2 separate regions of the Homo sapiens genome follow, and region 2 is linked to region 1. The links come from fine-mapping of genetic effects on gene expression. Tissue or cell type: whole blood. Region 1 holds a variant in brackets; the other region holds the start of a gene. All regions are shown on one strand. Distances are between the middles of the regions.

Region 1 (2,500 bases):
CTACCCCTGTCTCCCTGTAGGGAGGTAAGAGTCTGGGGTCCCTGTGACCCCAGGGCAAGCCTCCAGCACTCCTTACCATCTACTGCCCTCTCAGAAGCCAAGAGAAATGAAGCGTGGCACAGACAGGCTCTGGGGAAGCCAAATTCACCTTCCCAACTGGTCCTTCTGGCCTTTGTAAATCCACATTCCTCTTTTGCCTGTGCTTCCTCAGGTCCCCTTCCCCCTGGCCTAACCAGGTCCTCTTCTATCCTTTGGGGCCTTGCTCAGGCCCACCTTCTCCTGAAAGCCTCCTTGACTACCAGGGAGCTCCCTTCAGCTGAACTCCTCCAATGCCTCTACCAATGGGCCCATTCAGCCTCTGCACGCCTGACCTGCTCTCTCTATTAATTAACTCTCCAAAGCTGAATCTTTTGAGGGGATTTGCTAGTCTTCCCAGATAGGCCATCCACTCCCTGGGCCAGGGCCACAGATGACACATCCCAGAGGTATGTGGCCCACAGTCCTTCCAAGCTGGGCAGTGACTCTGCGTTCCCTGCACTGGTCTCAAGCCACGGGCTCATTTCCTCCCTGCTCGGGCTGCGTCTTCCTCGTGGGTGAGGGAGAGATAATAACACCTACTCCTCACTGCCTATCACAGCGATGCTGAAGGCATTAATAGGGCAAAGTCCAGAAAAGAGCTTTGAACTTTTCTTTGGAAAAGAGCAAGATAAATACAGGGTATGCGTATTTATCATTATCCTGCACATGGAGACAAGGGCAGTGAGGCAGAGAAGGACATTTCAGGCATGCTGATGGGGTGTGGCTAGTGGCGGTTCCTGGAGGACCAGTGGCAGTTTACAACAGAGCTTCCACCAAGCTGGGGAAAAATTAGACAATGCAGGGCATGTTTTATAAAGCCACATTTACACTATTTAAAAAAATGCTCGGCCGGGTACGGTGGCTCACGCCTGTAATCCCAGCACTTTGGGAGGTCGAGGCAGGCAGATCACCTAA[G/A]ATCAGGAATTTGAGACCAGCCTGGACAACATGGTAAAACCCGTCTCTACTAAAAATACAAAAATTATCCGGGCGTGGTGGTGGGCGCCTGTAATCCTAGCTACTTGGGAGGCTGAGGCAGAAGAATCGCTTGAACCCGGGAGGCGGAGGTTGCAGTGAGCCAAGATCGTGCCACTGTACTCCAGCCTGGGTGACAGAGCGAGACTCCGTTGTCTCAAAAAAAAAAAAAAAAAAAAGGCTCTTAGTTCTGAAAGGATATCTACCTTGCCCTTTCAATGCTAAACTGTTTTTCTGTTATAGCACAGTAAGAGCAGAAGATGGTATCATTTTGCTGCTATTTTTTGCTTCTTAATGTCCTTACTTGGCAACATTAAGAGTCCACTGCACTCTGTGGGGCCCATGCATTTGAATGTGAAATATTCTTGGTCTATCAGTACAACAGTCAGGGAACGGAACCCCTTGCCCAGTGGGAGGGTGCCACGGGGGAGGTCGCTTTACCAGAGGAACAATCCCCTCTACTGTGTGGATCAGCGCATCACCTACTCCTTTTGTGCCTCACTGTCCCTGTCAATAAAAGGGGAAAAAGGACTTCATGGAGATATCCAGGTATGAGGAAAGAACGGATGAGGAAATACTTCACAGACTAACGTGGGAACTATAAAAGTGGGGGTGTGATCACCATCTTTCACATGAATCCAACTTTCCCAGTCATTATTTTATTTCCACCCCAGTACTCTGGGAGGCAGTACCAAGAAATGAGAGACAGCATTAGAGCATGGGCTGTAGACACTAAAGGCCTGGGTTGTGATCACCTTTCTTGGGTCTCAAGAGATGGAGCTTGGCAGGGCACAGTGGCTCACACCTGTAATCCCAGCACTTTGGGAGACCAAGGCAAGAGGATCGCTTGAAACCCAGAATCTGAGACCAGCCTGAGAAACACAGTAAGAACTGTGTCTCTACAAAAAATTGAAAAAAAAAAAAAAGAAAGAAAGAAAGAAAAAGAAATGGGGCTAATAGTAAATACCGTTGCAGAAGGTTCCTTGGAGGCCTGCATGCGATGGTGCAAAGCCTCAACCTAGTAGCAGAACAGAGTTTAGGACAAGTGGCTTGTTTTCACTGATCTCCACACAACTGAGCTGGACGGGGTCTTAGAGAGATAACCAAGAGGAAAGGGTTTCAAGCTTTCCCAAGGAGGGGCCTCAGGACCCACCTCTCCCAGCTCTCCTTCTCATCCAGCAGAGCTACTTGGATGCACAGGAATCCACCTGAGACTGCATCAGCTGCCAAGAAAGGTCACGCCAACTGTGACCTGATCTTTGCGGGTGAGATAGAAAATACTACAAATGATGGCCGGGCATGGTGGCTCACGCCTGTAATCCTAGCACTTTGGGAGGCACAGGTGACAGGACTGCTTGATCCCAGGAGTTTAAGACCAGCCTGAGCAATATGACAAGACTTTGTCTCTACAAAAAAATTTAAAAATTAGCTGGGTGTGGTGGTGCATGCC
Region 2 (2,712 bases), 39 kb after region 1:
CTCAGATGAAGGTGGGAAAAGGAATGAGACCGTCAATGGCAGTGGCGTTAGGCAACTTTCAAGGCATCTAACTACTTAGCCACTTTCTTTGTCTTTCCTGTCCGGACCCAGGCTCATTTGAAAAACGATTATGTACCTTTATGGACAGAAATGGGAGAAGGGCTTTAAAAAAAACGACCGTCCTGCCGGGAGTGGTGGCTCACGCCTGTAATCCCAGCACTTTGGGAGGCTGAGGCGGGAGGATCAAGAGGTCAGCAGTTAGAGACCAGCCTGGCCAACACGGTGAAACCCCGTCTCTACTAAAAATACAAAAATTAGCCGGGCAAGGTGGCACGCGCCTGTAATCCCAGCTACTCGGGAGGCTGAGGTAGGAGAAGAGCTTGAACCTGGGAGGCGGAGGTTGCAGTGAGCCGAGATCCCACCACTGCACTCCAGCCTGGGACAGAGCGAGACTCCGTCTCAAAACAAAACAAAACAAAACAAAAAAACAAAACGACCGTCCTACACTCATTTATCCATCAGGTCAATGGATACTTACTGAATGTTAATCTTGTATAGGAGCACAGGTGTAAGGGCAGGATTATACAGGGATGAATTCGATACAGGGATGATGTATTCGTTTCCCTATTTGTTCATGAGTCTGTTTTTAAGTAATCTGTCCTCTCTTGAATGTCAAAAGCTGCTGATTTCACGAACGGTACATGGAAGATGGTATTTGAACTGGGTCGCATAGTCTTGCTGGGACTCCCGTGGAAGCGAACGGGGACAGCGGCTGCCGCAGCTTGTGCAGTGGAGCTGGCAGACGCTGGAAGCAGGCCAATCTTGAAACGTAGGGTCCAAGGCCGGCTCCAGCGTGTTGTGGTCGTTTCATCAAGAAGGAATTAGCATTCCTATTATCTTTCTTCCCAACTTGCAGCAGGACGAACCAAGAGACCTGAACCAAGAGCCCTGTATAGGAGGGGGTGAGCGGAGTTGGGAGCCAGCTTTGGGGTCCGCCCCATCCGGATCCGCCATCCTACGTCGCCCGTGGAACTACGTTCCTGAGGGCTTCCGGCGTTGCCTAGCAACTGCCGGGCCCCTAGGGCGTCCAGCGGCCCAACTGGAGTGGAGCCGAGTGTCGCCCTTGGGAAAGCAGGTAGAAGAACTGCGTCAGTCCCGCCAGTGCTGGGCCCGGGCCGATTACACGTGGACTCACGCGAGCCGTCCTCACAGCCCGCCGCCGCCAGCGGGAGGGGCCCGGCGGCGCCAATGGGCGGGCGGCAGGGAGCGCGCGTGCGCAGGGCAGGTCGGGGGGGGGGGGGGGGCGGGGCGAAGCCGAGGAAGAGCGTTTTGGGGACGGGGGCTGGTGAGGCTCACGTTGGAGGGCTTCGCGTCTGCTTCGGAGACCGTAAGGGTGAGTGAACTAGCGCACTCTCCGCAGCGGGCGGGATCCCGGCGCCTCTCCTGTGGGCTGGAGGCTTGGGCTCAAGATGAGAGGCAGGAGTAGTCTGGGGGCGCGGGCTGGGCCCCCAGGCCGTCTCGGGACGCTTAACCGGCTAGGAGCACGGCCTGTCTCCCGGGGCGGAAGCCTGTGCCCCACCGGGGGCTCTGGAGCCAGACGGGGCCGACTGGGCAGATCTCCGCCCCCTTCCCTGGTCCCTAGGGGCCCGAGGATCGGCCTGTGGGACCAGCTGTGTCGGGTGGACACTGCTCCTGGCCCGGCCCAAAAGCAGCGGGCCGGAAGCCTTACTCTCCCTCTGCTCCTTGTTCCCTCTCTCGGGGAGACCACAGGTCCTGTCGGGCCCGGCGGGGGAAGCTGATCTCCTGTTGTATTCCCTCTCTGGGCATGGCCATCCACCCGGGTGCCCAAGCCAGAATTGGGCATCATTCTCACTTGCTTCACTCCTTTACCCACCCACATCGAATCCCTTGCAAAGTTGTCTTGGATACGTTCATTCTCCAGTCCCATCCCCCTGCCCTACCTAGTTCAGGCCACCTTTTCTTCTCTGGACTACCTCGGTGTCTTCCTGATGATCCCTGCATCTCTTCTTCATCCTCTGTAGTTTGTTCTATACAGAGAGGCTACAGCCATGGTCTTAAAACAGAAATCTGATCATGTGACCAGAAGCGTCCCCCCATTCCCTTATCACCCTTTGGTGGATTCTCATTGCTCTTCCAAGCTCTTGAACGGGGCTTGCAAAGCCCTTCATGACCTGTCTTCCTTTAACTTTAGATTCATTTGTCTCGACTGTACTGTGTCTTCAACCATACTGAATCTTTTTTGGTTCTTAGATCAGAACAAGTTCCTTCTGGGCTTACATGTTCCTTCAGTATGTTCGCTATGTCTGAGGCACTGTCCTTTGGTTGAAATAATCCTTCTTATCCTTTATGTGTTATTTCAGGTGTCAGTTGGGGATTTCGTGGTACCCCATGGGTGTCTGCCTGCCGGTCTCTCTTTTCTACCAGGTTGTAATCTGTGTGAGAGGAGTTTGTCGAGGTCATAGTACTATCTTCAGTACCTTGTGCTGTTAGTACGGTCATTAAATGTATAAATGCAGCATGGGTGCTCCTTGGGCTCCCTAGATGAACAAATAGATCAAGTTATTAATATTAAATGCCTGCTTTTTCAGAACCAATTCTCAACCCTCAGTCCGTGTAGAGGTTTCTTTAGCTTAGGAAGTTGGTTATTTTCTTGCCTTCATTCCAGGACCATGACAGGGGTAAGTGACAAAG

The links. PIP is the estimated chance that this variant, and not a neighbour inherited with it, causes the effect.
Region 2: MCFD2 starts here. The variant in region 1 is fine-mapped to the expression of MCFD2 in whole blood (TOPMed, PIP above 0.99).

Annotation. Positions count from the first base shown.
Region 1 is chr2:46,953,296-46,955,795 of GRCh38, reverse strand. All of the region lies in intron 2 of TTC7A (tetratricopeptide repeat domain 7A), which reads right to left. Among named protein-coding and RNA genes, the nearest start is that of TTC7A, 13 kb to the right of the region's middle. RefSeq lists a silencer at 372-666. The variant G/A (reference allele first, on the strand shown) is at 994.
Region 2 is chr2:46,914,404-46,917,115 of GRCh38, reverse strand. It overlaps MCFD2 (multiple coagulation factor deficiency 2, ER cargo receptor complex subunit), which reads left to right and starts at 1,310. Exons shown (of 4, transcript NM_139279.6): 1 at 1,310-1,393. It also overlaps a transcript of TTC7A not described here. RefSeq lists an enhancer at 266-1,240 and a silencer at 1,244-1,323.